Homo sapiens: one gene and its partners. The protein of the gene in region 2 purifies or fractionates together with the protein of the main gene of each other region. This does not show direct contact. Each region holds a gene or a part of one and is shown on either strand. Other genes may lie near its edges. The genes, in order: ASS1, CA10, TSC22D1 and PSMG2.

Region 1 (7,723 bases), on a different chromosome or scaffold from region 2:
CCGTGGCCCTTTCTGGGGGATGTGGTGGGGGTGGAGCTGGGACTAGGGGAGGCTGAATTCAGCCAGGATCTGCCTGCCAGGCGCAGCTCCCAGGAAGAAAGCCCAATGTCTGGGAGGGTCAGAACCCAGAGGGCTGTCAGGTTGTACAGATGAGGAAATTGAGGCTTAGCAAGCCAGGAACTTGGCTGAGGTCAGCCATAGCAGCGGTGCACAGAGCTTAGTGGGCACATACATGCTTGGTGCCCAGCTCTGGGCTCCTTCCCCCAGCATCTCACCCAATCCTTACAGTCGCCCTGTGGGGAGCAGGCTGTTTGCACCCCTATTTTGCAGCTGAGCAGTTATGCTAGAGAGCTGAAGCCACTCAAACCCATGTCTGGTGGACTTGACCTCTGTCCTGTGCCTGGAGTGAGCGCTCACTGGATTGCAGCTGTGGTTCCTTCTCTCCCTGTCACTTCCTCCCCCGACATCAAACCCTCAGTTTCATTTAGTTTTTGCCTCGGGCTGCAAATGCAGCTTAGGGACCTGCGGAGGCTGAGGGAGGGGGGTGCCCCACCCGCTGCTGGGAGGGCAGGAGCAACGCTGCTGTCTGATTGCATCATTTTCCCAAGCCCATCTGCCCAGCTCATTTCTCTGCATGCATACACTGGCCCCAACACCCACACACGTGTGCATGCACACAGGCACACATGTGCAAGCCCAAACACATCACACACATGCATGCACACACATTGTGTACTCTCAGGTACGCACCCCTGGGTGCACACAGGTGTGTGCGCGCGCACACACACACACACACACACACTGTCTCAGGTACACACGCCAGGTCCATGCATTGCTTCACACTGCCCAGCCCCAGAGGCTGAAGGCCTCAGAGCCCACACCTGCCCAGCTACAACCTGGCAGGCAGGAGGGGCTCACTGGTTTCTTTTGGTTTATTTAAGACAGAGTTTCACTCTGTCACCCAGGCTGGAGTGTGGTGGCACGATCTTGGCTCACTGCAACCTTTACCTCCCAGGTTCAAGCGATTCTCGTGCCTCAGCCTCCCAAGTAGCTGGGACTACAGGTGTGTGCCGCCACACTCAGCTAATTTTTGTATTTTTAGTAGAGACGGGGTTTTGCCACGTTGGCCAGGCTGGTCTGGAACTCCTGACCTCAAGTGATCCACCCACCTCGGCCGTCCAAAGTGCTGGGATTACAGGCATGAACCACTGTGCTCGGCCATGAGAGCATGTGTAGGACTCCACAGCTTCAGGGCACCCCAGCCCTCTTTTTGCGGTGAGGAGCTGACCTCCAGAGAGTGGAACTAGTAGCATTGTTCTAAGTGCCTGCCACAGGCATCTGGGAGATGGTCCCTGTTTCCATGGAGCTCATAGTGGGGGAGAGGGCAGTTAGAATACAGCATGATGGCCGGATGTAGTGGCCCATGCCTGGAATCCCAGCACTTTGAGAGGCTGAGGCAGGCAGATCGCTTAAGTCCAGGAGTTCGAGTCCAGCCTGGGCAATGTAGTGAAACCCCATCTCTACAAAAAATACAAAAATTAGGCAGGTGTGGTGGCATGTGCCTGTAGTCCCAGCTACTTGGGGGTGGTGGCACTGAGCTGGGATGGGAGGATCCCTTGAGCCCAAGAGGTGGAGGCTGTGGTGAGCTGAGATTGCATCACTGCACTCCAGCCTAGGTGACAGAATGAGACCCTGTCTGAAAAAAAAAAAAAAAAAAAAAGGATACAGCTCTGATGGGCAGGAGGCATGGCGGGTCACTGAGGCGATGCAGGTGATCCAGCTGTTTCTGTGGAGCTGCCCCTCCGTGTTTCTGTGGAGCTGCCTCTCTTGGCTCCAGGTGCCTCTGGGAGGAGGCAGGAGCAGGGGTGACTCTCAGAGCTGGGTGAATCTTGGGCCAGCATCATCAGATCACACTTGCCCAGGACTTCCCTTCCTTGAGTCTCCAGTGGTGGTCTTGTACCTATGAGCAGGGGGTTAAGGAGCCGAGCTGATCTGAGTTGGAGTCCTGGCTCTGCTGCCTACCAGTCAAACGAGATGCAGGGCAAGTTCCTCAGCCCAAGCCTCAGTTTTCCTGACTCTAAAATGAAGAGAACCCCAGATGGAAGGGCTTAGCCTAAGACGGACATGTCTATTCCCTTGATTGTGGTGTTGATGTCACGGGCGCATCCGCACGCCGAAACTTGCTAAATTGGACACAAAAAAATATGCGATTATTTTTGTAGTTGATGAATGTGCTGATTGGGTATTCTCGTGTGTGTGTGAGGTGCCACCCTCAAACTTTGTTATGATGTTGGCACATTACCCATCTGATATTTAAAAAATGCAATTTATGATATGTCAAGTAGACCTCAATAGAGCTGTTTTAAAACATACAACAGAATTTCCCGCAACCCAACCACACCACCCGCGCCATCACACGCAAACAGGGGTAGGCTTCCACATATTTCCTGAATGCCTTCTGGAGCAGGGGGCAGGAGGCAGGAGGCAGGACAGGTGGCTCTGGGGCTCCTGGACCTCCTCTGCTCAGTGAGGCTGCTCACAGGAGATTGGGCGGCTGGAAAGTAAGGTTTAGGGCCTCTGGGATGGCCCAGGCTACCTGCAGGCAGCTGAGTAGCTCTGCTTTTGCAGAGTGGTTCACTGCACTGTGAAAACAGATTCCAGACGCCGGGAACTCACGCCTCCAATCCCAGGTACTGCCCACCTTAAGTCCTCCCTGCCTGCCTTCCTCCCTCCTTCCCTCCATCCTGCATGGCCAATTGCCTGGCTGCAGTTGCCATGGATACCACCTGCTGGCTCCAGGGTTAGGGCTGGCTGAGTCACCAGCAACTCAGGGGCAGGGGGTTGAATGCCCAGTAGGGACGTTGTGGGCACCGACCAGAACCATCTTCTCTGCCCCAGCTGCATGGTCCATGAGGTGTTTCCCCTTCTAAGTCCAAAGGGCAGCACAGGCCTGTGAGCCCCGGCTGACTGGCAGGTGGGACCGTGCAGCATGCACGGGACTGAATTCTCATGTGACGGAGCTCCAAAGTCCACCTGGCTACACGGCCAGGCTCTGCAGCAGAGGACGGGAGGCCTGGGAAAGGCACTTCCTCTCCCCGAGCTTCCAGGCACACAGAGAGTGCTCAGGATAGCGATGCCTGCATCACTGCAATGGTGATGGCCGGGTGACCCTTCTGGGCTCCACTTCCCCAGTAGTGTCTAATAAAGACCCTGGGTGACTCTGACCTTGTGACGTTGGTCAGACTCCAGTGGAAACGTTCCCAGGCAGAACAAACATGCCCTGTACATTTGGGAAATGCGGGATGCTGGGGCCAGGTGTCCACGGAGGCTGGAACCAGGAGGCCTGGGCCCACATCTGCCCCTGCTGCTTGTTGATCCGATGACCCTGGGCAGGTGACCTCGTCTCCCTAACCCTGGTTTCCTGTTCAGCAAATTGGACACAGTGAAGACGCCCAAGCCCAGGGCCACAGGAGGCATGTGGGGGAGGGGGGTGCAGGGCGAGCCCAAGGGCAGCCCAGGATTCAGGGAGAGCCCTCGGGGAAGAAGCATGGCTGCAAAGATCAGGAGACAGGAGGCCTTGGCGCCTTCGGGAGGCTTCATTGTGACGGAGGGTGGGGCAGGATGGGAGACCGCAGGCACTTCCCGGCTGCAGAGGGCCTGGCTGCAGAGAGCCCTCGTGCCCATCTGTCCCCCCGGGAAGGGCCGCTGGTTGCAGAGGTCTTAGGCCTCTGCCTGTCTATCGCCTTCCCTCCCTGGGCCTCAGTTTCTCTACCTCCACACTGGGGGAAGTTGGTCTCTGAGCCCCTCCAAACTGGGCATTGGCAGAGTTGAATTCAGAGGCGCTCACATTTGGAGACACGATGTCTAAAATTCCAGCCAGTGAAGGTTCCATGGGGTTGCAGGTAGGAGAGGGACTGGGGCTGGGCCCCTGCCCCACAGCATCCTTCTCCACCTGCAGGTGGGCGGCGGCACTGCGTGCTGGGGAAGCACAGATTCTTGTGCCCTCTGTGACCTTGAGCCTGCCACTGACCTCTCTGAGCCCTGCTGGCTGCCTCCCCAATAGGAATGACAACTCCTACTTCATGAGGTTGTAGTGGGGGCTCAGGGGCACAGGGAGATCCCGCTGAGGCTCCCAGGGCCCTGCCTGGTGCTTGGCAAGGAGCAGTTCTGATGGGGGATGTGTCAGCTGCCAGAGGCTCAGAGCCAAGGCCCCTCCCACATCTCCTGCCTGCGTGCATTCCTCACATCCTGGCCTTGGGCCAAACTGCTCAGCCTCAGCCGCCTTCCCTCGATGCTGGAGGATCAGGTCCAAGAGATGCCTCTCCCCGACCAGCCTAGGACTGCAGTCAGCATTCCCAGGCCCCAGTGTGGTCTGTGGGGCTGTGTGCAGAGTGTGCGAGGTCAGGGTTCCCGGGGGTGGCAGGCACTGAAGGTGAACATCCTGTTCCCGACCTTCAGTGGCAGCTTGCCCAGGAGACAAGGCTGTCCAAGGCCAAGGTCGGGGCTGGGCTGTCTGCAGGGGCTGGCGGGGGGCACTGGCTGTCTCAGGGTCACTCAGGTTGTTCCTCGACTCCCGCCAGACGCTATGTCCAGCAAAGGCTCCGTGGTTCTGGCCTACAGTGGCGGCCTGGACACCTCGTGCATCCTCGTGTGGCTGAAGGAACAAGGCTATGACGTCATTGCCTATCTGGTGAGGGAGCGACCTGGGTGTCTGTCTTCCTGCGTGTCCTGCAACCTGTCCTGTCTGCCCCCTGCCAGCCTCTGTCTGGGTTGTCAGCCTGTCTGCTCACCGTCACTCATTCAAGCCTGGCCTCTTCTCTCGAAGCCTGTCTTGAACTGGAACTAGGAAAATAGCTTCTCGTTGTACTGCCTCACTTTCTCCATCTGCAAATTGGCCATCCTTGAGATGCCTTCCAGAGCCAGGTGATGGAGGCGCGGGGAGGGCACAGAAGTGAACTTGGCAGTGCTGCTGGCTTAGCCTGCTTGCAGAGAGGCATGGGCTGGGACCTGCTGCCAGCCCTGGGAAGGCACACAGTCTTCCCATCTCCAGAGTATGCTGTCAGCCTGCAGTAATTCAGCAAAGATTGTGGAATCCTGAGCTGGAAGGACCCTGGGGGATCACCTGGTTCTGGGATGGGAAATAGGTCACAGGTGATGGGTTATGTGTGAAGCCACTTCCTCATCCAGGGCCCATAGGAGTCATCCCTCTCAAACTAGCTCCTCTTCGACTGAACCTGGCCACAGCTCTGAGTCCTTCTCTGTGTGGCTGTGCTGTTCAGGACTCTTAGGTGCAAATTTTAGAAACTGAACTCAAACCAACTTACGCAAAAAGGAAAGGGAAAAGACAATTCTTGGCTCACACAACTGAGAACTCCAGGGGTAGGATGGCTTCAGGCAGGGCTGGATCCAGGTGCTTCTAAGATCTATCTCCAACTCTACTTGGCTTCATTCTTGGCCTCTCCACAGGGCAGGCAAGGCTCATGGTCACCCTCATAGCCCACCTTTCCCAAAAAGGAGGGCTTACCCCCAGTAGGGCCCATGGGGACCCACCACGCATTAGTCCCTATGGCTGCATCATGGGGTGCGAGGCTTGGGCCATGAGCCTACTCCTTCAGTGGGCGGGATTTCTTCCTCTCCATCCCTGTGGAATGGGGTCCACCCAGGAAAGAAGGTTCTGTTTCCAGAGGAAGTGAGCCTGGGTCTCTGGACAGACAAAACTTAGCTCTTGCCAAAAGTGGCTTGTTTGCCGGCATATTGGCATGTCTAACTGCGCCCAATGCCCTTGTCATTCAGGTTGGGGAAAGTGAGGCCCAGGGGAAGAAATACTTTGCTCACAGTCACCTGGTGGGTGAGAGCACAGCTTTGAGGGGCTGCAAAGAGCCCAGGGTGTATCCATCTCACTGTAGGTAGCACAGCGGGGCAATCAGAGCTGGAGCTGGGCGTATAGACCCCTGGGCTACCACCTGGGGGATTTAAAAGCTGAATGTGATTCAGATAAGCACCTGCAGCTGGGCTTTGGCAAGATTCCAGGGTCTGGTGAGCCGAATGAAGGGAGTGAGGGCTGAGGCCAGGATCTGGGCAGCAGGCCAGAGTCCAGGCAGCAGGAAACATGGCAGTGTCTAGACAGGGGCTGTCAGACCCCGAGGTCAGGGCACTGGCCACAGGGACGGAGCTGGAAGTTCCTGAGCACGGGCTTCTCTGCCTCCCGCCTCTCAGCTGCCTCAGGATGGCCAAGGCATGGCCTTTGACTAGGGAGGAGAGCTGGAGGCTAGGAAGGCCCTGACAAGCTAATCTTTGCACTGGCTGAGAAAGAGTTTTCTGGAAAAGACAGATGAGTTTCAGGAGAACCCTAGACCTTCCAGCAATGACAGCAGATGGTTGTCTCCCAGCAGCCTGTGTGGCCAGGGCCAGGCTCAGCCAATGCTCCAACCCATGGAAGCCACCAGCCATCACCACGCTACAATCCAGCTCCCAATCTCACCTCCTGGAAGAATCTCACCTCTCCAGGCCTTGGGCTTTGTCCTTTTTCCTTCTTACTGTGACTTGGCCATGGAATGGAAGCTGTCTCTGTAGCAGGGGGTGGGAGGCTGCTGCATGCGGATGGTGTGAACTCAGGGCTCCCCCCAGGGGCTGACGGAGCCTCTCCGCTTCTGCTTCTCAGGCCAACATTGGCCAGAAGGAAGACTTCGAGGAAGCCAGGAAGAAGGCACTGAAGCTTGGGGCCAAAAAGGTACCAGGCGGGAGGCAGGGATTTGGGCTGGGAGTGGGGCGGTGATGTGGAGGGCAGTGGTGGATGCTCCTGCCCCAGGGATCCCATCCCTTCCAGTGTGTCTTCTTGCTTCTAAGAGTATGAGATCATCCTGCTCTCAGGTGTGTGAACCCTCTTGTTTTTCTGCCTCCCCCACGCCCTCTTCCACCCACCCACCTTCCCATCCAGGTGGAGTGTCTCTTCCCCACCCACATACCTTCCCTTCTCTTTTATCTCTCTGTCCATCTATGCACCCACTCACCCTCTTTTATCTCTGTTTATCTACTCGTCCACATATCCATCCATCATTCATCCCTCCATTAGCTATCCATCGATCCATCCATCCATCCATTCAGCCATCCATCCATCCATCACCCACCCATCCATTCACCCATCATCCATCCATCCATCCATCCATCACCCACCCATCCATTCACCCATCATCCATCCATCCATCCATTCATCCATTCATCCATCATCCATCCACCCATCCATCCATCACCCATCCACTCATCCACCCATCCATTATCCATCCATCCATTCATCCATCCATCCATCATCCATCTATCCATCTATCCATCCATCCTCCGTCCATTCATCCATCATCCATCCATCCATTCACCCATCATCCATCCATCCATCATCCATCCATTCATCCATCATCCATCCATCCATCCATTCACCCATCATCCATTCATCCAGCCATCATCCGTCTATCCATCCATCATCCATTTATTCATCCATCATCCATCCATCCATCCATCATTCTTCATCCTTCCATGCATCATCCATTCATCCATCCATCATCTACCCATGCATCCATCCATCATCCATCCGTCTATTCATCCATCCATTCATCCATCCATCATCTATCCATCCATCCCATTATCCATTCACCCATCCATCCCTTCATTATCCATCCATCCATCCACATATCCATCTGTCATTAATCCCTCCACTGTCTATCCATCCATT
Region 2 (7,723 bases):
AAATTATGGGTCTATAAGTATGAGTGTGAAAATTATATATATGCCAAAATATTAGTGGTGATTCCTGTTTAATTGTGAAATTGTGGTCGATTTGCTGTCCCATATCTTTCGAACCATATAATAATGCCTATGTATTATCTTAATAATTAGAAAAAATAGGTTATATTTAGAGATGGAAGTCACGTCTAACACAAATCTGTCTTGAGCTATTGTACTGAAAAGGAAGTTATGGGAAATGAAAAGTTCTGATTATCTCACACTAACTAAATATACATTTATTTGAGGCTGGAGAACAGGAGTGAAGTCATTGGCATGGATCATTTGGTTGCAAGGAATAGATAACTTGAGGTTTAAAAATGTATTGGTAAGGTGTAGAATATTAGAAAGTACAGTTCAGGCCTCTTGAAGGAACTAGAACGAAGAGACACAAAGATATCTGAAGCGAAGTAGTTATTCTCCCCATTCCCTCCCCCGTTCCCCAGTGTGTGGTCTCCTCTGTCAATGTTGGGACATCTGCCTCAGTCCTCTCTCTCTGATCTGACTTTCTCTGCTTAACAGTATGGTTGGCACTCAGGCGACCTTGCAGTTCAGGAACTCAACGGAGAGTTTCTGTTGATAGTTCCAGATTTCACAGGAGAAAGAAGATGACTGACTTAGTGTCTATCAGTTCCCTTTTGCTGCATAACAAACCACCCCAAAATTTAGAGACTTAAATAATCATTTAGCTCCAAGCCTATGGGTCAGTGGACATTTCTGACCTGGGCCAGGCTAAGCTGATCTCAGCTGGGCCAGTCAGCTAGTGGATCAGCCACAGAGTAGCCCGTCTAGACGGCCTCTCCTGGGATGGCTCTCCTCACTGTGGCCCCATCCTCCAGCAGGCTAGCCCAGGCTCATTTGCATGGTAGTTTCACGGCTCCACGAAGAAGTGAAGAAAACACGCATGCCCTCAAGGTCTACTCTCAGGACTAGCATGTTGTGTGCAGCACATGCTGTTGGCCAAAGTAAGTGACAAGGCCAGCCCAGACTCGACGTAGAGAAATAGCCTCTTATCTAGATGACAGCAGTTACAAAATTACATTGTTGGGAGTGTAGTTATAGGGAGGGGAAGAATTCCTGTCATTTTTGTAAACTGCACATAATCTCTAGGGGCCTAGGCTGACATGAGCTCCATGCAGTCGCTGCACCACATTGCCATTTCCATATAATGCCATTGGTCGATGTACCAGGGAAAGGTGAGTCTGGGGAATCCACTATTTCAACCTGGAAGTGACACTTGTCATGACCCCTCCCAACCCATGGCCCCTATCAGTCACATGGGCTCCATTCTACAGTAAGGTGGCAGGAAACAAAATGAGTCACTGGAATATTTGGTGAGCATTATGGTCTCTGCCACAGTGAACAACTCAAGAGCTAATCATTCACAACACCAGTGTCAGAAAGGTGGAAAAGAGGCAGGTAAAAGATAGTGCTATAGAGCACATATATGAAAACCACATCTAATGAAGGTGTCAGAAGGTACAGGAAGCCCTTCAGGAATCACTAGGGCTGAAGGCTTGGCCCAAAGTCAGAGTAAGCAGGAAGAAAATCCAAATAGTTCAGCCTCCTGTAACCCAGAAACACTCCTTCCAGACTCATTCAAAGTCTCCCTAAGCTCTAGATCCTACTCCCAGAGCTAAGTCAACCCAAGAGAGTAAGAAAGTAGAGTTTCAGATGGGAATGAGTGTTCTAGAATCAATTGTTGTTGAGGTCACAGTCAGGAAAATGAAGCTGAACATCAAGTCCCAGCAAGAAAAGAAGGAAAAGGAATGCCAAGCAGTCATGTTAGCAGTTTGAAGGGGCTGGAGCAAGATGGAATCAGGAATAAGGAGTAAGTCTAGGAATCTATGAAATTGGAAGTTTGAGTGAATCCCTTTAGTTTACCACTTGAGGCCCACAAGCTATGAGGATTCTGTGCAATGTCTGGTTGCAGGGCAGGACACACCAGATAGGACGCTTGAGAATTCAGACCTAGGCTTTCCATCTCCCATGAGCGTCTGCTTCTAGTCACTCATTTTCTCTTCCCTGTCTCATTTGGCCTTCTTAATATCTCACCCCTTGCTAACTGCTTTCTCCAATTTCTCACAGCTGAGATTTAGAACTCTTGCAGTATCTTTCCATTCCAAATCCTTATAGTAAGAAGGACAAATTCATTTTTTATAAAATACAATGCACAAAATATTAATCACAAATGATGAAAAGTCTCCTTCAAGTTCTTACCTCAAATTCCTAAGCCATCATGTGGTTTATGCCTCACAGAAATTACCATAGATCCCACATATACCCTCTGGGGCAGCTGCCACGCCCTACTCCACATGTGGATTTAGCCCATCTTCCCATCAAGAGGAAGCAAAAGGTGTTGATCCAAGCACCATGCTGGGTTTGGGGAGGCATAGAAGAAGGAGGGCCTTGCTTGACCTGTTGCTAATTGCCTTGCAGGTCAGTGGGACCATGTACAACACTGGAAGACACGTATCCCTTCGCCTGGACAAGGAGCACTTGGTCAACATATCTGGAGGGCCCATGACATACAGCCACCGGCTGGAGGAGATCCGACTACACTTTGGGAGTGAGGACAGCCAAGGGTCGGAGCACCTCCTCAATGGACAGGCCTTCTCTGGGGAGGTATGTTAGTCTGTCAAAGTACTAAGGTTAAATGTCAACTTATAAGATTGGGTGCCTGTTTGTGTCCAAGATGGGATAACATAACAAAGGGATTCGCTCTAATCTATGAAATGAGAAGGCCCATGCCTTCTTTCTCCATCTGTCTTTTGCAAATTGACATCGAAGTCAATAACAAGCTTCTAGTATTTTCCAGGGAAGGCTACAATGAAACTAGCTCTTTCCTTCTGAGACAATGTTGCAGCTCTCTTGAGACTCATGTCCAGTGATATTTCTAGAGCATTATTTCAACCCCAAATCCTCACCTTATATATATAATACATCTTTACTTACACCTATCTGGGCGATCAGCCTCTCACGTGTCACATATGATAGCACAGATTCCATAACTTTTCTTTTGAATATAATGAGTCATATTTGCATAAAACTATAACATACTGTGAAATAAGTGTCAGGCAACTCAATAGTTTTCCTGAGTTTCTGCAAAATGGAAACGTCACTGTGTGCCACCATCAACCCAGACAGAACTCAGGCCACAGCAGAGAGCCCAACCACAGTTTCATTTATAGGACAAGAGCTACAGTTTAAACAGTTGTCATCTGTGGTGTGACACTTCACAAGTAGGGTGTAGGTAATTTGATCTGTTTTACCCCCGTTATACTGGAGGGTGTTTATGAACTAGAGATCAGGGGTCCTTACAGGCTAAATGCCCTGTGACTAGGTTTCTGCTTAAGAGTCCTCAATAACTGATGTTAGGAAGGCTTTGAAATTACAAAAATATGTATTGCATGTGGTGTTTTTATTTTTTTAAAGATCATGTATAAATCTGGCCTTATTTTTAGTGTGTTAAGGCCAAGCACTAAGAAACAGACCCACAATCTTAATGAGTCCAGCAGCCAGATTTTAATGTGCATCCAAAATGTGTCACTAAGAGCCTGCCTAGGCACTCAGCTAGTTACCAGGGATACAGAGATTTAAAAAAAGGGCTCCTACCACAGAGGAGCTCAAAGAGTGCTACATTCAAGTCATTAAAGTATAATGTCATGCTGTAATGGGGATGTACAAAGGCCCTGGCAAACTCAAAGGAAGAAGTGGTAAATTTTGCTTGAAGGGGTCAGGAGAAGCTTCACAGAGAAGGTGCCCCTTGAACTGGGCTGTAAAGAGAGGCAATGATGAACAATTTTAAGACCATCAGCTTTGGAGTCCAGTGACCTGAGTTTTGTAGTCTTGCTTTGATACACACTGTGTGATCTTGGGATGTTACTTGAGCCTTCTAAGGCACAGTTTAGACACCTCCATTTTAAAAATTAAGTGGGATTCCAGATGTAAAAACACTGAAAGTACTCAATGATTGATAAACAACAATGACAAAGCAGGAAATGAGGGCTAGTGCGAGCAAAAGCCCCGAGGCATGTCAGGGCAGTGTGTGCTAGAGAAGCTGCATGATTTCATCTAGCATTTTATCTGTGATCTGTTAATCATGACTCTATAAACAATAGGGTTGAGCTGTAGTATGGGTCTCCCTCCTGGATCTGTAGGGAAAAAAAATACTAGGATTGATTAGGGATGTCTGCCAAAGGCATTGTAATGCCAGGCTCCCAAGTTGCAGATTCTGAACTAGAGTACAACAAGAAATGTAATGAAAGCAGGACAGAAAGTCACAATTTGAGCATAACTGGGTACTGCCGGTCTGAATTAGAGAATATTCAAAATTAGATGAATTCTTCCTCTTAAGTTATTTTAAGGTTTGTAATTATTTTATCTGTTGACTTACTTGCTCATTTTTTTGTTTGCTGTTATTTCTTTTTCTCCCCCATATTCTGTCATATTCCAGCACCTATCACAACACTGCTTCAGAGTAGAAATATTTGTTAAATGAATAATTGATAAAATGTAGATGTTTACTAGGCTAAAATCTTTACATTGTATTATTCTTTAGTGACACTTGTTTCTTCAGTATATGATAAGGGTGCTTTGTAACTTATACGTGAACCACAATTTTAGAGTAAATGAGTGCTTCCAAAATCCTTAAGGGAAACATATAGTAATTTGATCTCTTAGTGTATGAATTTTCCTAGACCTACACCAGACCACAGGTATCAGGTGCACCAAAGAATTTGCATTTTAAAAGTTCCCAGGAGAGTCTGACGATTAGGTTTGTGAAGCACTTCCACAATGGTACATTATTATGTGTTCCCAGTGAAGAAAGCAATGAGTGAAGAAAGCATGTAAGCAGGGTTGCAAATCACAATGAACTGGGAAGCCTTGTCAAAATATTTTCCTCTCAGTCCTTCCCAAAACCAACTGAATCAGTCTCAGGATATAGGATCCAGGTTTGTACATTTGTAAAACTTTCCCCAAGAGATTTTGGTTAGCGACCACTGTGACAATTTTAGGTGAAACTCCGCCTGAATTATCCCAGTTTTCTAAACAAAGGGGACTTAATCAACAAAATCACACTGCTAAAAAGGGGGGAAGGCACACACATTGGTAATTGTCCCCTGGAAATGGCAAGGCTGGGATGCTATCTAGACTAATGAGACTTGGAGAACAGCTTCCCAAGTAGGGTGGTCACACACACACATCCACTGCTCCAATGTAGGCTTGAGCACTGGCCTCAGCATAGGTATAATCTACCTTGCCCTGGGTAGATGCAGTCATCGTATCACATTTCTTTCCAAGCCTCTCAATGTCAGGGGTCTATAGACGAACTGGTATGGGTTTAGGTGCAAGAGACCAGAATTTCAGAGTCCCCGAAACAATGCTATATGCAAAGTAGTGCGATAAGCAGTTGACTTTTGAGATCCCATTTACGGATTTCAGCAAGCAAGAAGAGTTTGGCATCTTCTGTGTAGCATAAGGGAAGACACCTATGGCCAATGGGTGGTAGCTACAAAAAGATGGAATTCAGCTGCATATGTGTTCTAACGATGAAAACGATACAGTGATGAAATGAGTTTGCCTCTGAAAATTGTGACTTCATATTACTGGAATTATTTTATTTATTTATTTATTTATTTAGAGAGAAAGGGTCTTACTCTGTTACCCAGGCTGAAGTACAGTGGTAGCACCATCACAGTTCACTGTAACCTCTAACTCCTGGGCTCAATCAATTCTTTTGTCTTGGCCCCCCCACAAAGTGCTAGGATTATAGGTGTGATCCACTGCACTCAGCCCCATTACTGGAGTTATTAAGCACTGAACAGAATTTGGTGACTCCATAAAGGTGACTCACATTCGAATGAGCAGGGGAAACTGTCAGTTTTAATGTATCTTCTGATGCTGAAATTCTATACAATCCATAATTTTTTTTTTTTTTTTGAGATGGAGTCTCGCTGTGTCACCCAGGCTGAAGTGCAGTGCCATGATCTCGGTTCACTGCAACCTCCACCTCCTGGGTTCAAGCGATTCTCCTACCTCAGCCTCTCTAGTAGCTGGGATTACAGGTGTGCACCACCACACCTGGCTAATTTTTTTCAGTACAGGTGAGGTTTCACTATGTTGGCCAGGCTGGTCTTGAATTCCTGACCTCAAGTGATCTGCCCACCTCGGCCTCCCGAAGTGCTGAGATTACAGGCGTGAGCCACTGCACCAATCCATGATTTTCTTATAGAAATTTCCTTCAATTGTATTCTACTGAGGATTAGCCTCAGTAAAAGTCAACATATCTCACCCTGAAGGTTAACTTTTTAAAAAATGAATTTCAACTTTTATTATAGATTAAAGTGTACACATGCAGGTTTGTTATGTGGGTAGATTGCGCGAATCTGGTTAACTTAATTTTTATTTTGTGCTACCTTCAAAGCCACCTTTGGCCTCTATTTTTGGCTATCCTTTGAGAGGACCCAAGTAGACACTTCTAGCAAGAAAGCATGTGTTTATTTTGTTGACAGTGAATGATCACATTGCCATCTGCCCTATCTATCACTGCTGATCGTGATAAGTCAATTAATGCCAGGCATTTTCCTTGGCACAGTGCAACAGTCGTTATCTGAAGAGCTATAGATTAATTGCAGTCTTGTCTAGTGAGGTTATTGTAATTGATGGTAATCATTTGCTTTGTTTTATAAAGCTGCATGGATGTATGACATAGTCAGCAACTGCATTTTTATAAAAATTACTCATGTCCTACACAGAGAACTCCTGGATTCCTTGTTGGGGATTGGTGATAAATGAGCACATTCAGGGATTCAAATGTCTCCATTTCTTTAAGAAGGAAAAATGAACTGTTTTTAATAAGTAAGACCCTTAGCTTGCTAATCATGTCTAAATGGTTAGATTAATGTCCAGTATAAAGTAGGATATTTATGAAAAGAAGAAAATACATTAGCCAGGGAAAAAATAATATTTGAAAAGAAACATGCCTTAGATTCCATTGCAGTAGTGGGGGCTGGACAAGAAGAATCTTCCTGATTTGGGATACATTAGACAAGTTCATTTAAAAATCCTTCCTTAAGTTCTTCTTTTCAAGGGGGCAGAAGGGTACACGGAGAATTGTACCAGCCACTTCATGCAAGATCTATAGCCAGTTCCTCCTGTTAATTTCATCCACTCTTCACATGCTCTTGTGCTTCTGCCATGTGGTGGGCTCCGAGCTAGGCATGGGCCAGAGTGCAGCTTCTGCCCACAGATGTGTAAAGTCTATTGAGGGATGTATATTGATAATACCACATAATGTGGATTATATTTGAAGCTTATTCCAGAAGGGGATTATGAAATAGCTCTCACTAGATAGCATTAAGCAAAGAATGGGTGAGCAGCTGTGCAACCTGACCCACTTGCTGCTCCCTCTGACAGCAAGATAGAAACACCTTGACCTTGCTAGCTCTCAGCCTCTGGAATCTCTGATCCTGCTCAAAACACATCTGAGAGAGGGAAAAGTCCATAGCTGTTGCTATGGTGATATAGATAGGATGTGTTTCATTAAAAGGGGAGAATTAAAGTCATATGTAAAATATGGGGCTTTCTCTCTTGCTTTCTCTCTCTCTCTCAGTGGCTCTGAATCAGAAAAGAGAAAACAATTATCTCAGAACCAACAACTGAAACAAAACAACAGAAAATGCAG
Region 3 (7,723 bases), on a different chromosome or scaffold from region 2:
AAAAACGGCACTAGATTTCGAATTGGAAAAACAGCCTTGAATCCTAGCTCTGCTTTACTGCTATGTATGTAACCTTAGACAACTTGCCCTCTCTAAATACTCAGCAAGTTTCAGTTTATTCACCAATAAAATAGAAAAAAACTTAATTCACAAGATTACTGAGTGGTTAAATATGGTAGACATTAACTGAATCTAATACTAACATTTTTCATCACTTCTATGAACTGAAATTCTGAATTACATACTATTCTTATTTCTAACAAATATAAACTAAGTAATTCCACTCTTAAAATTTATGTATTCATTAGAGAACTAACTTGGAGCTATGACTTAATTAAAATTAGCATCATTCATTACATTTAATAGTACAGTATTCTACCATTGAAATAGATGTGTAATGATACTAAACACACACATCTATTTTTTCACTCCTTCCCTAAAACCCCACTAAAATGACAGAAAAGCAATTTGTTAAGATACAAAGACATAAGCCCACAAAAACTGAGGCAGATGAAAAGACAATAGCAAAAAAATTTGAAAGCTGGAAAGCAGACAGTTGAGTGACAAATGACTTAGCAAACACTAGAAAATCAAAGCTTTAGCAAACAATGGAGAATGCCAAAAACAAACCCAATTTAAACTGCAAAATCCCCAAAAGACTCAGGAATTGGCAGTACCACATCTATATAAGTGGGATGTGGGGGGAGAAGGTGCTAAAATTAAAAAGATTGTTTAGAAGTCAGTTTAAGAAGCAACCAGTCCTACAGATTCCCAACTGTCCCTCCCTAATCCCAAGAAAAAAAAAGGAATATTGTCTGAAGAAGGTAAAACATAGGATCACAGGACTAAGGAAATCAGGCACAGCAAAATGCAGAACATACTGAAAACAGGGTTGAGTGAAGAAACGTATCTGGGGATCCCCCAAAACCTTTCATTCCACATCCCCCTCACTGCCCACCCCACAGAATGCTTGTAGAAAGGCCTTCAATTCCAAGCAAGAAATCAGAAGAGCCTTCTTATAGGGATCTAACCAGCTAGGAGGATATACAAGAAGAAACCGACACTAGAAGTCCTCCAACCAAACACCACAGCCAGGTTACCATACAGGAAAGCTAACAATTGACAAGCCACGCTCAGAATTTCTAATTAGCATTTTAATTCCTTACTCTTACACATGACTACCAACTATCTGAGGAAAGGCTATAAGATGAAAGATAAAGACCAAAGCAAATAAAAAGTAAGAAAATAAAACCTAGAGGAAACACCACATAGAAAGAAAAAAAAAACTTTTTAAAAAAGCTAACATTTTATATATTCAGATAGCTAAGAAAAAATACTATCATTATTAAAATAGAATAGTATACTATTAAAAAGGAGCAAAAAAAAAGTTCTTGGAATTTAAATATGTGATAAGGGAAATGGAAACTCAATAGAGCAAAAAGAAAAACAGATGAAAAGTAGTTGAGAAAACACAAGAAAATTAGAAGACCAGTCAAGAAGGTCCGTTATCCAAATAAGAGGAGTTTAAGAGAGAAAAAATAGAAAGACATAATCAACAACCTGACTCAAGAAAAAGTCCCAGAATGAAAAGATGTTTCCAAACTGAAAGGGTTCACCAAGTACTCAGCACAGTGAATGAAAACAGACCCACACAAAAATCCATCATGGCAAAACTTCAGAACACTGGAAACATAAAATCTTATAAAGGTTTTAGAGGTTTTAAAAATGAGAGGAAGAAAAGGAAGAAGGAAAAGGAAGGGAAGGAAAAACAAAATACACAGGTCACATACAATATATAAGATATCAGAATGGCTTCAGATTTCTCAAAAGCAATATGGATGTTAGAAGGCAATGGCACAAAATATAAGAGAACATAACTTCCCCACCTGGTATTCTTTACCTAAGAAAGTGTCAGAGTAAACTAAAGCCATTTTAAAACAAGCAAACTAAGAATAAAGACACTAGTCTCTGGAAAATAAAGATCCAACACAAGACAAAGTGAAAGGAATCCCAGAATAATAGTTGTGTACCAAGCCAAGAAGGCAACCAGTCAAGAATGGAGGTCAGTGGGATATAACACTTCCTGAGAAAGATAAAATTGTTAACAATATCTGATATTGGAACATCCTAAGAGGCATCTGATGAAAAGTGGATTTAGTGATAAATATAGAGAAAACTAGGCAAAGAGGTAAAAAAAGACAATGAACTCCAGCCAGATTACTCTGCGGTAAAGTTAACAGTCAACAAGCCACACGGAAAAAGAATTTTTAAAAATAATTATATATATATAGTAGAGACAGGATCTTGCTATATTGCCCAAATTAATCTCAAACTCCTGGCCTCAAGCAATCCTCTCACCTTGGCCTCCCAAAGTGCTGGAATTATAGGCGTGAGCCACCATGGCCAGCCCCACACTGCAAATCTCTAATCAGCTCTTTAATCCTTTAACACTTATTTGCAAGCAGACAATCAAGACTTACCAGACATCTAAGGAAAGGTTCTACAGGAAAGGTAGAGCCCAAAACATACAAAAATGGGAAGAGGGTGGGGAAAGGAGGGGCAACTTGGAGAAAACAGACAGCGCTGACAGATGAAAACCTGGGAGTGGAGGAAAACCCATTTCTATAATAGACAGGTGGGGATGGAGCAGGGAAGCAGCCACAAAACACTGTACAGGATAGGAAAAGTAATATTTGACAAGAATACTGAATAATCAATATTGATAACTACTGGGAGGAAGGGTACTGGGAAAAAAGGAGACCAGGTAGGTATATGGTAACAACAAAATTAAATCTTCATTTTCTATCCAGGAAGTTAATACAGACAAAAAGAAATGAAAGGTGTATTTTATTTAACAAATACCTACATAGGGCATGTGAGTTAGACAAAGTTCTAGGGAATTTCCAAATTCATTTAATTCTTATATCAACCCAATGAGGTAACTACTATTGTCATCATTTTTTTAATGAGAAGATTGAACCATAAAGAGGATAAATAGCCCGATGTTACATAAAACTAGTAAATGACAAGAAAGATCAAATCTAGGCAATCTAACTCCACAGTCCATGCTCCTAACGAGCAGGCTATATTACATATCTAGTGGTAAGACAAGCAAGTTATTTAGAGACTGGGAGGTAAATACCACAATAATCATCTAAAAGAGGTGAAAGTGATTGTTTCTAGGAAAGGAAAACTGGAAAGTAAGGGTGCAGGAAGCTCTTCCATTTATTTCTTGGAAAACCATTTAAACTATCTTTAAACTGTGCATGTACATCTTGAAAAAAAAACTTTAAAAATTATAATTTCGTATTTTAGTTAACAAAGTATTTTAACTGATACTACTGCTATCCTGAGAAGCAGGCAAAATGAGTATTACTCCTATTTTATAGGTAACACACATGCGTCTTAAATATTTGAGGACCTACTATAAAACAGGCAATGTACTTTGCAGACATACATCAATTCACCTAAAAATGTTGATGAGAGATACAAAAAAGCAAGTCTTTTTATTCAGTTCTTTTCCATTTGTTGCATAAATTATATGATCCTGCATCTCTCACAATTGTGCTTAAGATGAGGGACAATATAAACTTTAAATCATGACAAAAAAAAAATCAGGAGAAATGCCTGCTAATTAATTCAAAAAAATAATTCATCCCTGCCCTTGAGGAACATCTAGTCTTGTGGGAAAGATTGGTAAACATAATTATAATTGAATGTGTACAGTGCTTAAATAGAGGAATATTAAAAAGTGCTAAGGAAACAATGTCCCCTGAGTGAAAAGAATGCTTTAAAGAGAACATCTGAGCTGAGTCTTGAAGGATGAATAGAAGTTTGACCCATTTCACGTTAAGAGGCTGTGCTAATAACAATCACAAAACATAAAAGATGCAATACCTGTATTTTCCCATTCTTGTAAAGGTGAATTCACAGTTCATGTTACAGTCTAAGACATTAAGACTTTTTTTTTTTTTTTTTTTAGAGACAGGGTCCTGGTCTGCCACCCAGGCTGGAGTGCAGTGGCATGATCCCAGCTCACTGCAGCCTTGACCTCCAGGGCTCAGGGGATCCTACCACCTCAGCCTTCCAGGTAGCTGGAACTACAGGCATGCGCCACCATGCCTGGCTAATTTTTGTATTTTTTTGTAGAGACAGGGTTTTGCCATGTTGCCCAGGCTGGTCTCAAATTTCTGGGCTCAAGCAATCTGCCCACCTCAGCCTCCCAAAGTGCTGGGATTACAGGTGTGAGCCACCGCACACGGCCTGACATTAAGACCTTTTAAATAAGAATGATTTTTTTTAAAACAAGATACATAATCTTAGCATCCTGATCCATGTTTATAGTCTCTCCCAGTGATCAACTGAAGGCACTTTCCACATGTCTAAACATTTTATAATCTAAAGTGTTAAGAGTATTATTTCAAAAGATGATTAAAAGATAACCATCCTCATCTGTCCTACTGCCCAAATTATATTGTTAACACATTTCCTGATTCATAATATTGAAATTATATATGTATTCCCTCTCTCCTGAGACTAATGGTGACCAAGCCCAGAAGATGCAAGTGACAACAGAAGCTACCATGGGAAGAAAGGTTTTAAAAGTTTGTTTTTTAATCATATCACTGTTTTCTCTTGTAGTTATTCTTAAATTATCTTCCAAGGGCAAATTTAAATGAAAATTAACTTTTTTCCAAACTGTAGTGATAAATAATCTTCAGTAAAACACAATAAAGAATATAATATATATCTTTTCTGATCTTACAAGGTGTTTTAGGGCTACATTCCGATTTCACAGAATTTAAGATACCGCTAAAACAAAAATTTTCTGGTTTTTAATCACGAAACTTTGATGTTAACTAACCAAGGCCCAAATAGGTAGTAAATTCAAAACAGTCCCTGCTCTTGAGGAACTCCTGGTCTTGTGGGAGAGACTGCTAAACATAATTATAATTGAATGTGTACAGTGTCTGAAGACAACTTGTATTAGAGCTATATTTCCTTATTTCTCAGTATGTCTTTTTGTCCCTTTCTAGAATTCCATAATTTCCACCTTATTATTCCTTTTCTCAATTATTATCTGGAAAAATTAATTTTATATTAATATCTTAAACTGGGACCCTATTCCTATAGTTAAAACTCTAGTTGAAAGTAGCATCATCTGACTTTAATTGCCTGGAAGGGCAAGCTGTGGAAAATCCTATCATGTCCTACCAATAGGAGGAAAAAGAGGTGAAAGTCAAGCCAGGAGACCACAAATGGCAATTACAAAATCATGGCAAGTTTGAATTCAAAATGAGTGTTTTTGTTTGTGTATTTTACCCGTCTTTTGTTTCTCTAAACTTAGCATCCACATAATATAGCTGTTTTTATAGAGGCTTCACTCAAATCATAACCTTTTGACTTAAAAAACATTAATATTTGTGGTAATTCTTTTAAAATTAGTTGAGTATTAGCATGATAAAATTAAAGGTTTAACAATAATAATGGAACAATTAAGGAAACTACCTCCTAAAAGTTTATCTTTTAGAGTACAGTTTTGTACAAATAATACAGAATACATTTGGTTAGGTAACAAGGTTTTAATTACCTGACTATTAGAAAAATAATAAAAATCTTGAAAGATAAGATTTTATCAATTTAACCATGTCTTTATCTTACCTTTTAAACAACTAAATAACACAAACCTCACTGAAACATTTGACCTGTTTTCTTTTTCTAAAATTACAACTATTTTGCAATATGCTCAATTTTTCCAAAGCAAAACCCACAAACATACATATAGAATATAAATGCTTAAATTCGCTTGATGAAAGTTCAATCACAAAACCCTCCAACTAATACTAAAATAATTAAATATCTTGCACGCTTACTCCAAATTCCACCGTGAAAATGATGTCTTTTCATAACTCCTATAATAGCATTTTAATCAAGGTTAGTAACAGACTGGAAAATTTGTGAAAAGAACATTACTTTAAAAATCAACATGAAAGATTTCACAACTTTTTTAGCCAGTCAGCTTCAAAGACACAATTTGATTCAATAAGCGTTACTGGCATATTATTTCCAATCTACGTGAAAAAACGCTTGGTTTAATAATGTACTTTAGGCTTTCTGTATCTTTTTGGTAAGGAAAGAAAGGAACAGGTGGAGTAGATTAGCCAGAGACCAAGGTCTTATTTTCACGCCTCTATAAATTCAATCCTCCAAGACTTACTTTCTCTGTTCTTTAAAATGGCTACCACCTTGATCTACCATGCAAAAGAAAAAATGTTCAGCATACTATCAAGATAAGTCTGGTTATTTTGATAGTTTATGTCCTCCTTTCCCACAAAATAAGATTCCCATTCCTTTACTGTTCAGATAAAATGACCATTAAATAAGTACGCAAAAGTTGGTCAGTTGGAGTATGAGGGCAACCTATATAACCCAGATTAAGTCATCTTTCCTACCATATCTGACTAGGAAAAGTAGGCAACAATATCTTTCACAGACTAAGATCAAACACAGTAGAAATGAAAAAGGGATGTCTAGTAAAGGAGAACAAACGTGGGAACCACAACCCCCCAAGAGATTATTTTAGCAGCTCAAAATAGATTAACTATTATGTGGGTTAGCAAAAATTAAGCTTTCCATAATATTTCTAAAAAGCATTTTAGAGATAATAAAACCACTTGGCGCCCCCAAACCTGTTTTTAATGTGAACACATGCTCAACAACTATTCTGAAAATATTGTTTACATATTACTATTATTTCCTACTCCCTCTGAAACCATTCCATAACTCTTGCTCTATAAAACTTCCCATAAAAATGCATTTTTCACATACAAAACACAATATACAATGTTTTAGAGTCATTTTGTGCATACATATAGCTACTAAATAGATTAACTTCAAATCTGTTGAATGTCTCCAGAAATATGACATGATCTTACCTCTCATCCTCGCCATCCACCAGGGGTGTCGTCAGCGGTAGCACCTTCAACGGGAAAAGAGAAGCAGAGGCTGCTAGGCTGCTGCTACTCCCATCTGAAACTGCTGACATTCCCCCACTGTCACCACTGATAGTCTGAGGTAAGCCAACTAAGGAGGGCTCCGCTGCACGCCTGGCATCTTCAATTTGGCTTCCAATTGCCTGAGCTAATGATTGTGCGGAGAACTGGGTAGAACTTAGTGGTATCTGTTGTGCCAAAGGCAAATTTGTATTAGTTGCTATCAAGGGAGGTTGACTAACACTTTGAACCAAATTACCATTTTGGGTAGCAGGGGTTTGTGCTATATTTTGTGGTGGAACCAAGTTTGTTGGGGCAGAAGGCATTCCAGAAGGACCAGTTGAACTAACCTGACTTGTAACAGAAATACTACTAGCAGAGGGCAAAGAACTAACTGCAGGCAACTGCTGTGAAACAATTCCTTGAGCTACTGGTTCTACTCCTTGTGGCTGGGGAGGCACAGTTAACAAGGAACTTTGGGATGCAATAACCAATTGTTGAGGAAGGCTTGGAGCACTAGTTTGAACTCCCTGATGAATAATCCCAGTTTGAGCAGGTGGAACCACTTGCGAAGATGGAGGAGCACCCTGCTGAATAACTGAAGGTGGAACCTGGGTAGAGGGCTGCTGCACTGCAGTAGGTATGTTTGCTTGCTGACCAATATTTGCAATCTGACTGCCAGTAGGTACAGCAGACACTGCTGCCGGAGCCTGGCCAACAGGCTGGACAGA
Region 4 (7,723 bases), on a different chromosome or scaffold from region 2:
CAATAAGTATTTGTTAAATAGTCTCAAAGGTGGAGGAGGCCCCAGCAGTTGTAGTTAATGAAAATCAATATCTAGCTATGATGTTATGATGCTTTCAGTACTAATATAACTATTGTATTCTGTCTAAACTTTTTGAAGTGCTGTGGGCCAGGCGTGTTGGCTCACGCCTGTAATCCCAGCACTTTGGGAGGCTGAGGCGGGTGGATCACCTGAGGTCGGTGGATCACCTGAGGTCAGGAGTTTGAGACCAGCCTGGCCAACATGGTGAAACTCCGTCTCTACTAAAAATACAAAAATTAGCTGGGTGTGGTGGTGCGCGCCTATAATCTCAGCTACTCAGGAGGCTGAGGCAGGAGAATTGCTTCAAGCCAGGAGGCAGAGGCTGCAGTGAGCCAAGATCACGCCACTGTACTCCAGCCTGGGAGACAGAGGCAGACTCTGTTTCAAAAAATAAAATAAAGTGCTGCTAATTTTGGTGACTTACTGAACATATCTTTTATAATTTCAGCCAGCAGTATCTGTTGGAAATGTTGGCCAGCTTGCAATGGATCTGATTATTTCTACACTGAATATGTCTAAGATTGGTTACTTCTATACCGATTGTCTTGTGCCAATGGTTGGAAACAATCCATATGCGACCACAGAAGGAAATTCAACAGAACTTAGCATAAATGCTGAAGGTATGTAAGACTTTACCTTGTATTTTTCCACTACAAAGTAGAGTTGTTTTAAATTAGAAATAGACTTTATTGATAATTGTTTTGTAGCAAATGTTTACTTAGTGCCAACTTTGTGTAGAGTTCACAACCCAATCACATTGTCCTATTCTTTTATGTCCTGGTTTTAGTTGTTGTTAGCCTCTTGTAAATGGCAAGTCTTACGAAGGTTGAGAATAAGATCATACTTGTATCTTTTTTTTTTTTATTATTTTTGAGACGGAGTCTCGCTCTCTTGCCCAGGCTGGAGTGCAGTGACGCGATCTCCGCTCACTGCAAGCTCCGCCTCCCGGGTTCACGCCATTCTCCTACCTCAGCCTCCCGAGTAGCTGGGACTACAGGTGCCTGCCACCGCACCTGGCTAATTTTTTGTATTTTTTTAGTAGAGACGGGGGTTTCACTGTGTTAGCCAGGATGGTCTCAATATTCTGACTTCGTGATCCAACCGCCTCAGCCTTCCAAAGTGCTGGGATTACAGGTGTGAGCCACCGTGCCCAGCCCATACTTGTATCTTTTCTAGAATTTTTAAATTTCCTTGTTTTTCAACATGGATTTTTTTCCTTCTATCCTCAGTTTTATCTCCTGTTCTTACTGGTATGTGTAACCATCACTAATAATATGGAAAGGCGAAAAGTAGATTGCGCTGGACTCAGTCTTGTAGGTTTAATATATGTTACGTCAACTAAGTCTTATCCTCGTAGTCATCTTCTTCCATTATAGGATCCATAATAATATGGTATAGATAAGGCTCAAAGAGATTGACTTGCCTGATGCCACTAATAGGTGTAGGCTTTTCCCATACTGTAAATCTTTGTAATTCCTCATTGGACTATCAGGCTTGATTAATCAGGGAACACTGGTTATAATGCAGCACAGCACCAGGTGAGTAAGAGAAGAGCTCCTGTTGATCATGAAGCATGGGAGCACCCAGTTACTACCTTTGATGGCTAACTGTTCTGGTGATCTTTCAGTCTTCTGTTTACCATTTTAAGGTCAAATCCAGAGGTGACAGAAGAGCATGAAAGGCCTTTGGTGAATTGAAAGACAAATGAAGAAGCATTTTGGTTTTTGTGTCTTACTAACCATATCATTGTTTTTAGCTTGCGATAGTGAAATGTACATTTGAGAAATGACCTTATTATTGAACTTCCTACAGGACAGATGGCTTTGTCAACGCAAGACTAAATTTGAGTTACTGCCTCAGAGGATAAAGGACTATAAATGGTTAAAACCAGAATTCATGACCGGGTGCGTTGGTGCACATCTGTAATCCCAACACTTTGAGAGGCTGAGGTAGGAGGAACGCTTGAGCTCAGGAGTTTGAGACCAGCCTGGGCAACAAAATGAGACCCCATCTTTACAAAAAGAAAAAGAAAAAAATTAGCCAACCTGTAGTCCCAACCTCTTAGGAGGCTAACTAACTTGGGAGGACTGTTTGAGCCTGGGAGGTTGTGGCTACAGTGAACCATGATGATGCCACTGCACTCCAGCCCGGGTGACAAAGTGAGACCCTGTCTTAAAAAACAAAAGCCCCTAGAATTTGTATACTTTCCACTAGTGATAACAGCTATCTTTTATTGAGTATTACTATGAGCTAAATGCCATGTACTTTTTTTTTTTTAATGAGATGGAGTTTTGCTCTTGTTGCCCGGGCTGGAGTGCAGTGGCGCGATCTCAGCTCACCGCAGCCTCCGCCTTCCAGTTTCAGGCAGTTCTCCTGCCTCAGCCTCCCGAGTAGCTGGGATTACAGGCATGTGCCACCACACCCAGCTAGTTTTGTATTTTTAGTAGAGACGGAGTTTCTCCATGTTGGTCAGGCTGGTCTTGAACTCCCAAAATCAGGTGATCTGCCTGTCTTGGCCTCCTAAAGTGCTGGGATTACAGGCACAAGCCGCTGCGCCCAGCGGCGTTTACATGTAATTCATTTAATCTTTACAACGTTCTTTTTTTTTTTTTTTTTTTTTTGAGACAGAGTTTTGTTCTTGTTGCCCAGGCTGGAGTGCAATGGCACAATCTCGGCTCACTGCCACCTCTGCCTCCCGGGTTCAAGCGATTCTCCTGCCTCAGCCTCCCGAGTAGCTGGGATTACAGGTGCCCACCACCACACCCGACTACTTTTTGTTTTTGTGTTTTTAGTAAAGATGGGGTTTCGCCATGTTGGCCAGGCTGGTCTCAAACTCCTGATCTCAGATGATCCGCCTGCCTCGTCCTCCCAAAGTGCTGGGATTACAGGTGTGAGGAGCAACTGCGCCCGGCCCCCGTAAACTTTATTTTATTTTATTTTATTTATTTATTTTGGGTGTTTTTTGAGACAGTCTCGCCCTGTTGCCCAGGCTGGAGTGCAGTGGCACGATCTCGGCCCATTGCAACCTCTGCCTCCCGGGTTCAAGCGATTCTCCTGCCTCAGCCTCCTGAGTAGCTAGGATTACAGGCACATGCCACCACGCCCGGCTGATTTTTTGTATTTTTAGTAGAGACGGGGTTGCACCATGTTAGCCAGGATGGTCTCAATCTCCTGACCTCGTGATCTGCCTGCCTCAGCCTCCAAAGTGCTGGGATTACAGGCGTGAGCCACCGCGCCCGATTTGAGATGGAGTCTCACTCCGTCACACAGGCTGGAGTGTGGTGGCGGGATCTCGGCTCACTGCAACCTCTGCCTCCTGGGTTCAAGAGATGCTCCTGCCTCAGCCTCCCAAGAAGCTGGGATTGTAGGCACTCACCACACACCCAGCTAATTCTTGTATTTTTTTTTTTTTTTGACAGAGAGTTTTGCTCTTGTTGCCCAGGCTGTAGTGCAATGCCACGATTTTGGTTCACTGCAACCTCCACCTCCCGGGTTCAAGCAATTCTCTTGCCTCAGCCTCTGGAGTAGTTGGGATTACAGGTCCACGCCCCCACGCCCAGCTAATATTTTGTATTTTTAGTAGAGATGAGGTTTCACCATGCAAGTCAGGCTGGTGTTGAACTCCTGACCTCAGGTGATCCAACCACCTTGGCCTTCCAGAGTGCTGGGATTACAGGCGTGAGCCACCACGCCTGGCCTAATTTTTGTATTTTTAGTAGAGACAGGGTTTCACCATGTTGGCCAGGTGGGTCTTGAACTCCTGACCTCAGGCAGTTCACCCGCCTCAGCCTCCCAAAGTGCCGGAATTACAGGTATGAGCCACCACGCCCAGCCCTCATAAACTTTTTTTTTTTTTTTTGAGATGGAGTCTTGCTCTGTCGCCCAGTCTGGAGTGCGGTGGCACGATCTCGGCTCACTGCAAGCTCTGCCTCCCGGGTTCACGCCATTCTTCCGCCTCAGCCTCCCAAGTAGCTGGGACTACAGACACCCGCCATCACGCCCGGCTACTTTTTTTGTATTTTTAGTAAGACGGGGTTTCACTGTGTTAGCCAGGATGGTCTCCATCTGCTGACCTCATGATCTGCCCGCCTCAGCTTCCCAAAGTGCTGGGATTACAGGTGTGAGCCACCACGCCCGCCCCTTTTAAAGCATCTGTGATTTCACCATTTATCTACCCAAGCTTCACCATAAATTTGATGTTCTTGCTTCAGTTTAAGCAGAATTCATGTTGCTGTGATAGGGGCACTTAATGCCTTATCCTTCTTAGTGCCTCAAACCAGATCCTTTTCAGGCGTGTTACAGCAAGTCAGTACAAGTTTATTTTGGTGCAAAATGTTTTCGTAAGTACACATTTCCTGTGAACTTTTTGAAGACCCCTCATATATCCGATTGTTGTGCTGTGCCCTTGAAATCTCTTTTACTCTAGAGCAGTCCCTTTTTTTTCATCACAAACCGATTTATTGAAGAAAAGACTAGGTGTATTGTTTTGTACAATGTCCCACCTTCTGATTTGTCTGATTACGTCCTCTTGTCACTTGGCTTGTTGTTCTAGCCCCTGTGTTTTCTGTAACTGGAGTTAGCTCTAAAGGCTTGATTAGATAAAAGGTTAATGTTTTGGGGCAGAATACAGAAAAGGTGTTGTTGCTTTCGTAATGTATCACATCAGAAGAAAAAAGTACTAGGAAACAGGAACCTAACAACAAAAAGAATTGCATAGGCCGGGCACGGTGGCCCATGCTAGTAATCCTAGCGCTTTGGGAGGCCAAGACGGGTGGATTGCCTGAGCTCAGGAGTTCGAGACCAGCCTGGGTAACATGATGAAACTCTGTCTCTACTAAAATACAAAAAATTAACCCGTTGTGACGGTGTGCATCTGAAATCCCAGCTACTCAGGAGGCTGAGACAGGAGAATCGCTTGAACCCAGGAGGTAGAGGTTGCAGTGACCCGAGATCACACCATTGTACTCCAGTCTGGGTGATAGAGCAAGACTCTGTCTTAAAAAACAAACAAAAAACAAAAATTAGCCAGGCGTGGTGGTGTGCTCCTGTAATCCCAGCTACTTGAGAGGCTGACACACAAGAATCACTTGAACCTGGGAGGCAGAAGTTGGAGTGAGCCGATATCGCACCACTGCACTTCAGCCTGGGTGACAGAGCGAGACTCTGTCTCAAAAAAAAAGAATTGTATGATACGCTGATGAGGAGAGTATTGCTATCACCGAAGAAGTGGTAGCTTACATTTTAAAAAGCTTAGCCTGTCCACCCCCTACAGATACATTCTTTTCAAACCTAGGTCAGTTGAATTGGACTACATGTGTTTGTCACAGATAGGTTAGAGGCTGAGTAATCTTTGCCTTAGTCTCTTTTCCCTAAATTTATACCCTTTTCCCTAATTCCTAAACTTCCTTTGGACTGAACATACCTGGTGCTTGCTAGATTTGCTGAGTTCAGCATACCCCCCAGTCACACCACATCACGCCAGCCATAGGAGACAATTTCCGAAAGACCTGTAACAGTAGAGACCTGATCCACCAAAGGATTTGCTGTTATTTGCAATCTGTTTATGGTAACCAACACTTACCCCTTAGCACAGTAGTAATCCTGTGTCCTTAGAGAGTATTTTATCCCTGACTCAGGAGCTTCTCATTCTTTTTTTTTTTTTTTTTTTTTGAGATGGAGTCTTGTTCTGTTGCCCAAGCTGGAGTGCAGTGGCGCGATCTCTGCTCACTGCAAGCTCCGCCCCCCGGGTTCACGCCGTTCTCCTGCCTCAGCCTCCTGAGTAGCTAGGACTACAGGTGCCCGCCGCCAAGCCTGGCTAATTTTTTTATTTTTTAGTAGAGACGGGGTTTCATTCACCATGTTAGCTAGGATGATCTTGATCTCCTGACCTTGTGATCCACCTGCCTCAGCCTCCCAAGGTGCTGGGATTACAGGCGTGAGCCACCATGCCCAGCTGCTTCTCATTCTTAGAAATGAAGTTGGGCAGGGAAGCCTTAAGCATTTCTAGAGTGTGCCCCTTGTAGAACCTGATGAAAGCTATGGATCCTTTTCCCAGTAAAAAATACAAACACATTGACTCACATGACATTTTATGTTATTTCAGATCCTTTAAAAAGTTCTAAGGAACACACATGTACCTATTTCAGGATTTTATTACATGGCTAACATTCTCCTACCTTTTACTGTTTTTTCTGTTAATCCCAATGAGTGTTGCTGTTCTCTGGAGACAAAGAGGGGAGAATATCAAAAGCCAAAAAGTTCAGTTTTCTTAAGGATGATTTTATTTGTCATAATACCAGAAATTTTCAGGGGAATACTTCTCTGGTTTTGCAGTTAAAGTCAAAAGAAAAATAATTTTTTATATTTTCTTACAGTTAACTTTTCAGAAATGAATCTGTTCCATAGAATAAAGCCCACTGGCTTATTTTAAGGTACTTCTAAAAGGTCTTATTTTAACCAGATGTCATATATGTTCCGTATTTTAATTATTGAAAACATTTAAATGCAAAAGGTATTATAATTCAATTTTTGTTTATCATAATAATTTCAACTTGTATAACTTCACTGTCATATGATTTCATTTTCTTCTTGTTTTTATAGTGTATTCATTGCCTTCAAGAAAGCTGGTGGCTCTACAGTTAAGATCCATTTTTATTAAGGTTAGTATGTTGTAGTTTGCCTTTTTGTTTATTAAAGTGTAATGAGAAAATAAGTAACATTAGGGATTAAGATTCAAAAATTACTACTGTTTTTACCATATGTACAGTTAAGATCTGATTCTACAGAGAAATAATCTTACAATATTTCAGATGTGTTACTGTCTTTTCATGATTATATAGAAAGGAAGCAGGGCTTTTATCTTGAGTGTTAACATATTTTCAGTTCGGGTAGCATTGGTGAAAAAATGTAAGCATATTAATATTAGAGGTTTATTCCATTTGTATTACCTTTCAGCTGGTGGCATCTACATATAAACTATGTATATATCAAATTATGTATATGTCATAAAATATTCTGAATCCGACTTCTTTCCTCCTCCACTGCTGTCATTGAGTGCAAACCAGTGTCATCTTCATGCCCCTGACTAACTTGCTGATCTGCCTCCCACAAACAGCAGCACTGATGATCCTCTAAACGTACACCACATCACTACTCTCTTTGAAACCCTCCAGTGGCTTCTCCTCTCACTCAAAATTGTGATCCAGGAAAAGGGGCTCGCTTCCTGATGCACTGTGACACCAGGTTTTTGAGACAAGAAAGGCTTTATATTGCAAATTGACTCCCAAGGAGACAGGAGTCGACCTCAAATCTGCCTCCCTGTGCTGACTTCAAGGCAGTGTTTTTATTAGAAAAGGTTCAGAGGGTGGATTCTGAGATCAGTAGGTGAGCGATGGAAGGAAAGGGGACATCTGGAAGGTCCTTGGGCATGCACAGTTATCTCCTCATGCTAACTCATAGGGCTCATGTGCCAATTCAGGGGAATGAGTATGAAACGTGATGGAGAGTCAGCTTGCGACACCAGGAAGCTTGTTCTCTGCAGACTCTACTTGGCCATATTGGTTCCAACCAATTTCAGCCAGTTCTTTTATCCCATAAGGGGAGGAAGTTTCAGTATTTTACCAAGTAGTTTCTTATCTGCTACCCTGCAAACTCAATAATTTCT

What was found.
Region 1: the proteins of CA10 (region 2) and ASS1 purify together in Homo sapiens (affinity purification with mass spectrometry; 4 studies listed by BioGRID and IntAct, with this or other methods). This does not show direct contact.
Region 3: the proteins of CA10 (region 2) and TSC22D1 purify together in Homo sapiens (affinity purification with mass spectrometry; 4 studies listed by BioGRID and IntAct, with this or other methods). This does not show direct contact.
Region 4: the proteins of CA10 (region 2) and PSMG2 purify together in Homo sapiens (affinity purification with mass spectrometry; 4 studies listed by BioGRID and IntAct, with this or other methods). This does not show direct contact.

What each region holds. Positions count from the first base shown.
Region 1 is NC_000009.12:130,447,644-130,455,366, forward strand, and holds part of ASS1 (argininosuccinate synthase), read left to right. Parts: intron 1-2,212; exon of another isoform or gene 2,213-2,312; intron 2,313-2,628; exon of another isoform or gene 2,629-2,690; intron 2,691-4,580; 5' UTR 4,581-4,585; coding exon 4,586-4,690; intron 4,691-6,661; coding exon 6,662-6,730; intron 6,731-7,723. UniProt on the Homo sapiens protein: One of the enzymes of the urea cycle, the metabolic pathway transforming neurotoxic amonia produced by protein catabolism into inocuous urea in the liver of ureotelic animals.
Region 2 is NC_000017.11:51,742,571-51,750,293, reverse strand, and holds part of CA10 (carbonic anhydrase-related protein 10 precursor), read left to right. Parts: intron 1-2,475; coding exon 2,476-2,661; intron 2,662-7,723. UniProt on the Homo sapiens protein: Does not have a catalytic activity.
Region 3 is NC_000013.11:44,566,228-44,573,950, forward strand, and holds part of TSC22D1 (TSC22 domain family protein 1), read right to left. Parts: coding exon 6,936-7,723; intron 1-6,935. UniProt on the Homo sapiens protein: Transcriptional repressor. Acts on the C-type natriuretic peptide (CNP) promoter. Acts to promote CASP3-mediated apoptosis.
Region 4 is NC_000018.10:12,706,042-12,713,764, forward strand, and holds part of PSMG2 (proteasome assembly chaperone 2), read left to right. Parts: intron 1-508; coding exon 509-680; intron 681-6,660; coding exon 6,661-6,719; intron 6,720-7,723. UniProt on the Homo sapiens protein: Chaperone protein which promotes assembly of the 20S proteasome as part of a heterodimer with PSMG1.